Linked DNA regions of Homo sapiens. The protein of the gene in region 3 purifies or fractionates together with the protein of the main gene of each other region. This does not show direct contact. Each region holds a gene or a part of one and is shown on either strand. Other genes may lie near its edges.

Region 1 (3,656 bases), on a different chromosome or scaffold from region 3:
AATCCTAGTTCACTAAGTAATATGTGTAAGGTAAATGGATTGCAGTCATCAACTTATGAAATAACCAGTAATAAGCTCCACTTTAGAATGAAGAAGTTTTTCCAAAGAGAGAAAAAAATATCATTTCAGTACCTTGTCTTCCCTCATCATTGGTAAACAATCCAGCATCAGTGCTGCTGAGACTGCTGGAATCACTGTAATAAGGAAAAAGAAAGAAACAGATCAAAAGAACAATTGATCTCTCAGTCGTAAAATTTTAAAGAGACATGGCAGCTCAGAGATGGAACTTAAGCCTGACAAAGATCTGAAAGAAAATAAGATGATTTTTTTTTTAATCAAACTGCTAATATCCTGGTTCCATTCACTACAGAGCATATTATTTTTGGCACATAAAACCACAGGAATCTAATGGGACCCTGACAGTAAGCCAGATGTGACTGCAACGAGATGCTGACACAATTGATGCATTTTATCATGTACTTTCATCAAATGCTCACTGCTCCTTTCTTACGTCATGCAATTCAGCTTGAGCCTGGAACACCACTGCTCAATAAAATGGGAAAAGTCTCAATCAAAAGCAGGCTAAGCCTTTCCTCAGCACATGAAATACAAAGGACTAGGATGAGATTACTTTTCATAACCACATTTACAAATATTCTGGAGAAGACATTACTTAAGAATTCACAACAACTCTATTAGTTTGCAAGGAATAAAAAGTTTAAAACGGTGATAATCCATTATATCGAAGTTAAGGTCACTTTTAAGCAAAAAAAAAAAAAAAATAATATTACAAATATTAAGGAGGGAGTGTGTACATATATTCCCACAGAAGCTCCAGAGTCAAATCTAACATACAAATAAAACAAATAGCAGATATTTGAATAACATAAACAAACTGTTACTATTCTAATAGAAGTAATGCTTATATGACAGTCTAGTTTAAAATACCAGGAGAACAAAGTCATATAATATAATGAGAGGCTTAGCTTTTAAAGAAAATTTAGTGATGTTCTTTAAAAATTCTCATGTATTTTATTTTTACTGTAATTCTTAATTTTAACCAATCAGGAAATCATCCCTTTTTTTAATTAAAATACTTTTTCCATTAATATGTAGAATTCCATAATCTTATTTTTTAATAAGGCATCCTAACTTGTTTTAAAATATTTAAATTGAGAAGTTTAGGATTAAAATTATAGATGAGATCTAAATTCACATACATTTTCTGAATATAATTTGTTTCTGTTCGATTTCTTAAAAAATAAATATTAATGAAGAATATAGGAATTTCTTAAGAGGCACATTCTTCCAAGGAGTTCTGAATTTAGACCTCTCTCTAGCTTTCTTCCAAATTAAGTGCATGTACAAAGCTCCCTATATTGTACAATTGGTAATGAAAAAATATTTTCTAAGAGCATCACAACCAAATTTTCTTATTTACAAATATATATGCTCTTCTATGCACTATAATGTGAGAGTGTTAAAATCACCTCAGAAACTATCTTTCTGACATTTCGCTGTCTAAACTACTATTGATACTTTCCTCTTTCCTGTGTGCCCCCCATTAACACAACTCAAATGAAGGGTCTCATATACACCTCAGGTCACAGTTCCTTTTCTGAAACCCTTGAGGCAAAATGTATTTAAAATTCTGAATTACTCAAATTTTAGCAAGGTATATTCTAAAATGCCTCGGAGGAGTCTGGGATAGTACTCCATAAAACAGATTAATATATTTCTTCAATTAAATGAATGAATATCCACATTAAGTACAGGTCAAATTAAATTTGGCCACAAGTGAATTAGTTTTTCATAGCTTTTCAGAGTTCAGATTTGCAGACAAAGCATTATGAATTGATGTGCTATTTTTTCTAGACCATGATCTTCTAATCTGAATTCAGATTTACCCCTCTCTAATCTATTCTACATACAGCCAGGTTCATCTTTTCAAAATAAAACAAGTTGACTAAAAGTAATGTGATATTCTGAAACCAAAAAAGGACATTAAATAACAGCAAAGGAAATTCTAATAAACTATGAACTTTACTTACAAATATATCAATTTTGTTTCATTAATTGTGAGAGATTAACCATAGTAATGTACAATATTAACAACAGGAGAAAGTGGATTTGGGATATATGGGAATGTGATTTACATGAACTCTCTGAACTATCTTTACAACTTTTCTGTAAATTTACATCTATTCCAAAGAAAGTAGTTGATAAACTATGCACACACACATACACACACGTGTACATTATAGAACAGTCTTCTATTTAAAAATTTAAAATTACTTCAAAACTTGTTGAATTAAATTTAGATTTCAAGACTTTCTATGGATGGGCCTCCATCTAAATTCTTCTTATTCCCATCTCTGGTCCTTTTGTTTATGTTCTTTTCCCAGTGGTATGCCTATCTCCACTCTCTTCCCTCTCCACCTGTCCAAGCTCTTGAAGATATAAGGAAATCAGAATTCCCTCTCTTCCAGCTCTGAGTCCTTAATGATCCTTGTCCTACTTTGAGGTATGTTGGCATGCATGTATACAACATGTTTCTTGATTTACATTTCACCTCATTGGTATCTAGAGTTGTTCCGTGTACATTATGTACGTGTTTCTATGTTCAATAAATCAGAACAAGAACTTAAATAGAAACAAGCCTTTTATTTTCAGCAGCTGACAGTCATTACGGCTTATCTCCAAAGACACCCTTTCCTTGGAGATTCACCTTTTTAGAGTGAATTTTATAACACGGTATTTGGATGAGAATATATTCCACATATGCTGGATGAACAAATATATGTACACTAATATCAATCACTTGCCCCAATTTGTTCAATTCCTATATTTTCCGTAGAGTCCTCTTTCTCATTCATCCTCCCAAATAGTCAGTCAACCTCCCATCGATTCTAACTCTTAAAATTGGTCTCAAATACTCTCAAATACTTAGTTCTCTCTGCTATCATATCGTAATTCACTTCCCACTTAAGCATGGATTGGAGGTCAAAGATAAACAAAATACCAAAATACAGCTATAAAGATCACACTATCTTGAAAAAATGTAAATCAACTTGAGTTTCTTCACTGTTAAAAATTCTTCACTGATCCCATTGACTATAAGATGATAAAATCCAAACTATTTACCATAGCAGATAGACCTCTGAGAAATGCTTTTTGCTGTAATTCTGATCCCACTTTATTGCCGGTAAAAACAAAGTATGTATTTTCATTTCACAATTCATGCCTTTGCACAAGCTGCTCCCTCTCTACCTATGAATGCCATTTCCCTCTCTTCTCTTGACTTCCTCAATTCCTGAACAAGTCTTACTACTTGCTTTAAAGCACAGTTCCCTTAGCAAGTCTTCCCTCACTAATACTTTCCACTCAGCACATTTCATTTTCATCATTTGCTTGCCTGGCTATCCCAGACTATGCAGCTGTTGAGAACAGAGTCTCCATTATTAGTCCAGGTGCCACCAGTGAAGAGTAAATTGTAGTTAATCATCAATGTTTGTTAAATCTGACACACACACACAGCCCCCCACACTGAAGTTTCTCTTATTTATAAATCAACCCCAAGGAAATATAAAGCTTTTTGTAGTAGGAAAGCTTTGGAAGTAGTCTTGAAAACGCTTATACTTGTTACCAAAATACCT
Region 2 (3,656 bases), on a different chromosome or scaffold from region 3:
AATGCTGAAAATGATGAAGGTTGATTTTTATTTCACCCTTATTTTGGGCAAAACACTCCTGCAGTATCTGTGCAGACCTTTAAATTGTATACTATTTGAACATTCATTCAGCAGATATTTATTGAGCAATGACTATGTGCCACGCACTGTTAGAAGTATGGGGGATCAATTGAGCATGGTTCCTCCTCTTGCGGAACTTATGTTCTAGCATAGGAAATGCCTTTTCATGACCTTCGGGGTGGCTGCCGCTCATCCAAGGGCATGCTGTTTGGTGCTTGAGAAAGACAATGATCTTGTGTTTGTTGCCTAGAAAAAATTACGGGGGTTAGCCCTTAGAGGAATCCCCCAAAATTCTCCTTGTTGAAGGAGAATGCATGTTGAATTTGTGGGCAAATACTCGAGGAACTCCATTCTAATTTCCAGAGTCGTGTATTCTTCCTGTCCATTCATTCATTATTCAGCAAATCTTTTTTTTTTTTCCTCACGTTGGAGTCTCGCTCTTGCCCAGGCTGGAGTGCAGTGGTACGATCTCAGCTCACTGCAACCTCCATCTCCCAGGTTCAAGCGATCCTCCTGCCTCGGCATCTTGAGTAGCTGGGATTACAGGCGTGTGCAGCCATGCCTGACTTATTTTTTTATTTTTAGTAGAGATAGGGTTTCACCATGTTGGCCAGGCTGGTCTTGAACCCCTAACCTCAGGTGATCCTCCCATTTTGGCCTCCCAAAGTGCTGGGATTACAGGCGTGAGCCAGTGCACCCAGCCTATTTGATCAAAGCCCTCTTAAGCATTTGTTGTGAGCCAGCCACTGCCAATGCAAAGATGAATGGTATTATTTCTGCTCTAGAGGGCTTCCAAAGGGCTGAAGAATGAAGTGTTAACAGGATTTATGATTGGAGTGGGTGGGGGCATAAGGGCAGGAGAGCAGTCAGGTCCACCTCGGAAGTTTTTTTTTAGGTTTTTTTTTTTTTTTTTTTTTTTTTTTTTTTGAGACAGAGTCTTGCTGTGTCGCCCAGGCTGGAGTACAGTGGCGTGATCTCGGCTCACGGCAAGCTCCACCTCCTGGGTTCACGCCATTCTCCTACCTCAGCCTCCCGAATAGCTGGGACTACAGGCGCCCGCCACCACACCTAGCTAATTTTTTGTATTTTTTAGTAGAGACGGGGTTTCACCGTTTTAGCTAGGATGGTCTCAATCTCCTGACCTTGTGATCCGCCCGCCTCAGCCTCCCAAAGGGCTGGGATTACAGGCGTGAGCCACTGCACCCGGCCTTTTTTTTTTTTTTTTTAAAGGGCTTTGGAGAGATGGTGACTGATGAGCCAGGTATTTGGCAAGGAATGCTAGAATAGCAGAGACTTTCCAGGCAAAGTGTGAGCAAAGTCTTGAAGGATTTAGGGAACTAACTATTAGAATGTAGGATACAAGATGGAACATAGAAAGACAGGAGGCTTGAGATAGAGTTTGGTGACCTTTTCATACTTGGTTATGTATATGCCAGACAAAAGAGCTGGCACGTTCTCTTAAAGATCATAGGGAGTCATGGAAAGATTGCAGTGTCTGTGATTTAGAAAATTTAAACTGTGGTGGCTCCATTAAGAAGCCTGATACCTTTTTATTGAGGTGTCTTCAGGATTCTTTAACATCCCAAATATTCTACCTCAGTTGTCTGAATGACTAACTAGATTCTCATACGTGGGTAACACGCATAGGACAAATTAGATGCCTGCTGCGTGGCCAGGATAAATGTACAAGTGCAGTTTTGATGGACACAGTTGGTTTAGTTGAAAGAACATGACCCTAAAGGTAGACATGATTTTCATGATTTCAGTGTAGGATGCCTTTTTAGCGGTGTGGCTTGGGGCACATTACTAAACTCTGAGCATCTGTTCCTTTTCTTTGGAGTTATGAGGGTTAGAGAGAGTGATTGTAAGGTTTTGACTCATGGTAGATACTTGATCAGTGCCTATTTCCTATTCCTTAGATTAACTAAAGGCACATTGTTTATTTAACAATAAATATTGCTCAGTTCTTGGTTAATAATGTATCTGTTCAAGGTTCATTACTTTTCTGTTGCTTGCTTCATCTCAACTTTATGTTGAATGTGCAACATAAAATGGCAGTAGTGGGTTTGCTTTTTTCACGCAGATGGATGGGAAAGTACCAGTCTCAGTGAGGAGGAGGATGCTGATGGTGAATGGATTGATGTGCAACACTCTTCCGATGAAGAACAGCAAGAAATCGTAAGTCTGAAAATTTCATCTTATAACCTGGTGTTTATTAAGACGTAATTTATTCTGGGCCTTGTTGGGAGGCTACAATTTAAATGGCTGAGCTCTCACTTGAGCTGGTAGCCATTTAAGCCCTTGTGTGGTTTCAAGTCCAAGAAGCTGAACAGCATGCCCATGGAGGAGCGGAAGGCCAAAGCTGCAGCCATCAGCACTAGCCGAGTTTTAACTCAGGAAGACTTCCAGAAAATCCGCATGGCCCAAATGAGAAAAGAACTTGATGCTGCCCCCGGGAAATCCCAGAAGAGGAAATACATTGAAATAGACAGTGATGAAGAGCCCAGGTAAAATGGCACATCCACTTTAGTACTTCAGTCAGCTCATGTGGTAATGAAAGCATCAGGAAACAGAATTCCATTCTTGTTTCATGTGTTATTTTTCCCTCACCCCAGGGGTGAATTACTTTCTCTTCGGGACATTGAACGCCTTCATAAAAAGCCAAAGTCTGACAAAGAGACAAGACTAGCAACTGCAATGGTGAGTGAGCATATCATTCCTAGTTTTTTAAACAGAAAGCAAATAAAATGAAACATAAGCCAGAACTTGTATAGCCACAGAATGGCAATTTTTAAAAATGTTTTAAATAAAGGTATAATTAACACAGAAATTAAAATGCACAGATATTAGATGTTCAGTTAGATGAGGGGTTTTGTTTGGGTTTGCTTTTGTTAGTATGTTTGTTTGTTTGTTTTTTGCGACAGTCTCTCTCTGTCACCCAGGCTGTAGTGCAGTGGCACAATCTCAGCTCACTGCAACCTCTGCCTCCTAGGTTCAAGCGATTCTCCTGCTTCAGCCTCCTAAGTAGCTGGGGTAACAGGTGTCTGCTACCACGCCCAGCTAATTTTTGTATTTTTAGTAGAGTCAAGGTTTCGCCATGTTGGCCAGGCTGGTCTCAAACTCCTGGCCTCATGCGATCCACCCGCCTCAGCCTCCCAAAGTGCTGGGAGTATAGGCATGAGCCATTGCGCCCAGCCAGTTAGATGAGTTTTGACAACTGTATATAGCCATGTAACCACCACTCAAAACAAGGTAGAGAGCACAGGAAGGCAGTATTACATGTCTGTATTGTCAGGAAGCCACTATATTTATCAAAGCTAAGAGAAAAGTAGGAATGTGTTTACAGTCACCAGTGAAAAGCCAGAGCCAGTTGGAGTCTGCCTGTGGCTAGTGCTGTGGCTGCTCATGTCTGTGTCCTGCCTACATTTCCAACATCATTTTCTGTATCTCCACTTGTTTGAGACACTGTCCCCTCCTAGTTCCACCTCATCCTCTGTCTTCCATGTGTCCTTTCTCCTCCACACCTTTGTGTGCACTGTCCCTTCTTCCGGAAATGCTCTGTCTTTCCCCTCCTTTCCCTTACCATGAATGCCTTC
Region 3 (3,656 bases):
AAATGATGTCTTGTGCAGTAACATGGATGGAACTGGATGTCATTATCCTAAGTGAGATGACTCAAGCAGGAAGTAAAAAACTGCCTGTTTTCACTTTTAAGTGGGAACTAAATGGATACACAGGCATAGAGTGGAAAAACAGACCAAACAGTAAGAGAGTGGGAAGGGGGTGAGGAATTAAATACTACCTATTGGGTACAATGTACGCTATTTAGGTGATGAGCACACTAAAAGCCCAGACTTCACCATGACCCAATATATCCATGTGACACAAATGCACTTGTACCCCTGAATCTATTTTTTTAAAAAGCTTTCTAAAAAATTAAGTGCAAGGCTTTAATTGCCCTGTTAAATTCTTTTTTGTTGTTGTTTTTGAGACACAGTCTCGTTCTGTCACCCAGGCTGGAGTGCAGTGGCACGATCTCGGCTCACTGCAACCTCCGCTTCTCGGGTTCAAGCAATTCTCATGCCTCAGCCTCCTGAATAGCTGGAATTACAAGCACATACCATCATGCCCAGCTAATTTTTTGATTTTTTTTTTTTTTTTTTTTTAGTACAGATGGGGTTTCGTCATGTTTGCCAGGCTGGTCTCGAACTCCTGGCCTCAAGTGATCCACCCACCTCGGCCTCCCAAAATGCTGGGATTGTAGGCATGAGCCACCATGCCTGGCCTGCCCTGTTAAATTCTAACTTCTAGGCTTTGATCTAGCATTCTAGACTACTGACATAATTTTGAGTAATTCTTCCTTCCCAGCTATTGTTAACTGCAAATATAATTTTCATGTCCTCCATGTTTTTATCATTAGTAATATAAATGTGGAATGACAAATCCTTAAGCATAGCCCTATGGCTGTTCAATTTGGTAACAACCTACCTAGCAGCACCCTTATTCAGATAAAAGTTCTTTTGTTCACAGAAATATGAAAGACTTCTACAGATATGGGAGAGAGTAACTATAAATGAATTCCTCAAAGAGTAATTAATACCTTTCATTTTATCCCACAAAATCATTAGGCTAACATCTCCATCAAGTTTTAAAAGGTTCCCAATGATCTCTGAATTCTTTTAAGACAGAAAACAATTGTTATTAATTTGATATTTTCATACCTACATGTCTGAAGTTTCAAGAGAAGAGAAAGTTTAATTTGTAAAAAATTCGTCTGAAATGAAGTCTCAACATATAATTGGCAGCAAACATGTTCCTGGTAAATTAGAAATGACTCAGTAGAACGGCCCTCAAACACATATCACACACACAAATGTTTACTGTTGCCACACCTGACATTCAAAGCAATAAAGTACTGTGCAGTAAGTAAAAAACTACTTATTACATAGCCTGAAAGTCTATTTTTAAAGACCAAATGGAAAGACAGCTAATTCAGCAAACAGAATTGGAACTCAAAATTATGTCAGTAGTCTAGAATGAAAGATCAAAACCTAGAAGTTAGAATTTAACAGGGCAAATTAAACACGGACTCACACACATTGCTAACCTGTGAACTGTGGGAGCCCTGTTACAGAACAGCCATTGCTAAATTCTGGGGCCTCTTCCCCATACTTATTCATCTGTTGCTCATGCTCCTCACCCATTCCTTTAGGTGCTAGAATGCAGTTCCCACGGCTCTCCTTTCATATCAATGACTACACTGACACCACCTTTGTTTTTCTGGAAACATTCCTCACAGTTCTAGATTTATTCTTTTCTTTCCAACATATCCTGTACTATACTAGGGTCAGCAAGTTTTTCTGTGAAGGGCAAGCAAGATGGTAAATATTTTTGGCTTTGTGGACCAGAGGGTCTCTGCAGCAATGACTCAAGTCCACTGTTGCAGAACAAAAGCAGCCATACAAGAAAGGTAAATGAATGGGTATGTTTGGCTTCCAATGAACCTTTTACACTGAAATTTAATTTCATAAGCTTTTCATGTTATTAAATATTACTCTTATTCTAATTTTTTTAACTATTAAAAAATGTAAAACATAAAAAATGTAAAAACAGCTTGCAAGGCTTTCAAAAATAGGTGGCTGGCTGTAGTTTGCTGACCCCTGCTCTATCCTATGCTGAATAAAACTCTTCCATCATTCTAATACCACATACCACTGAAACTGACATTATGACAGCAGGTCGCAATGATTTGAGGAAGCATGCATGCCTTCATCTCTAAATGACTGGTGCAATGGGAGGGGGACCCTTCAAACCACTCAAGGAGGAGTCAGAGAAGATAATAACGGATTTCTTGGAGCTGTTCTACACAGCCACATTGTATAAAGAAAACAGGAGATTCAGCATTCAAGCTGCAAAGTCCCAGTGTATATGCTCAGAATTACATTGACAGAGTTCCCTAAATTCCATACCTCAAAAGGGCTCCAACATGCATATTTTACCATGACTTTATGGTAAAAATTGTGACTGTACCTCAACCTTTAACTTTAGGTTATTGAGTCCTCTACAAAACATTTTAAAAATGATGTTTCCCTGACATTATGGGCCATGGTTATATACAGCTCTCTTGGGGCTGATGAGGTCCAAAGGGCATAAGATGTTTGTTGCACATCTACTTTTTTTGTTGACTCAAAAGCCAAACTTCTTCCTGGAATAAACAGTTGCCATAATTTTCAGGTATATTTTTTCATTTCAAAAACATCTATATTTTGCTAATAGGTACAAAACTGAGAACTTAGGTTTTCATTAAATATTTTGGGATGAATATCAGAAATGAATACATTTCAGAACTACTCACTGAAAACATATTCCAGAGAGGTGGGAAAGGTAAGATACATAAACAATTATAACAAGAGGAGGTGACATTTGATTGAGACCCACCAGTCCGAGCTCCCTAAGTCCTTTGCATTATCAGTGCCTAAAAACACTGCTTAGGGAGACAGGGTGAGTATCTTTAGGTAGGTATGTTTGCTAAGGAGTTTGGGCTTCATCAGGCTTAAAACTGGAACCTATTAGAATACTGAAAATAATTGTTTAGAAAAGATAATTCTGGTTGGGCACGGTGGCTCATGCCTGTAATACCAGCACTTTCGGAGGCTGAGGTAGGCGGATTGCTTGAGCCCAGGAGTTCGAGACCAGCCTGGGCAACGTGGCGAAATCTTGTCACTACAAAAAATACAAAAATTAGACAGGCGTGGTTGTGTGCACCTGTGGTCCTGGCACTTGAGATGCTGGGATGGGAGGATCAGTTGAGCCTGGGACATCTAGGCTGCCGAGATCATGCCACTGTACTCTAGCCTGGGCAACAGAATGAGACCCTGTCTCAAATAAAATAAAATAAAATAAAATAAAATAAAATTAAAATTAAAATTAAATAAAATTAAAATAAAATTATAAAATAAAATAAAACAAAACAGGTAATTCTAATAGTGTTGTGAAGAGTGGATTGCCAGTGATAACTAGAAACAGAGAGGCCAATAAAATAATTCAAAGCAGTAGGTCTGCACTCAAGTACCAGCGTAGGGACTGGGAAGAGAGAATATGTTTAAAAGACACTCAAAGTCAAGATTTATTAGCACTCCCTGGCAGGTGTGAGTTGTACGCAGAGATGAGAGGAGAAAGGAAAGGTGAAAGTCATGGATGACTTTTAGATTTTTAATATAGGTACTGTGTAAATGTGGTACCAGTTATAGTACTGTGTAATGTGGTAGGA

What was found.
Region 1: the proteins of STK17A (region 3) and GPATCH2 purify together in Homo sapiens (affinity purification with mass spectrometry, with the first as the bait; one large-scale study listed by BioGRID). This does not show direct contact.
Region 2: the proteins of STK17A (region 3) and SDAD1 purify together in Homo sapiens (affinity purification with mass spectrometry, with the first as the bait; one large-scale study listed by BioGRID). This does not show direct contact.

What each region holds. Positions count from the first base shown.
Region 1 is NC_000001.11:217,614,009-217,617,664, forward strand, and holds part of GPATCH2 (G patch domain-containing protein 2), read right to left. Parts: intron 195-3,656; coding exon 133-194; intron 1-132. UniProt on the Homo sapiens protein: Enhances the ATPase activity of DHX15 in vitro.
Region 2 is NC_000004.12:75,956,429-75,960,084, reverse strand, and holds part of SDAD1 (protein SDA1 homolog), read left to right. Parts: coding exon 1-19; intron 20-2,143; coding exon 2,144-2,238; intron 2,239-2,376; coding exon 2,377-2,567; intron 2,568-2,675; coding exon 2,676-2,760; intron 2,761-3,656.
Region 3 is NC_000007.14:43,589,584-43,593,239, reverse strand, and holds part of STK17A (serine/threonine-protein kinase 17A), read right to left. Parts: intron 1-3,656.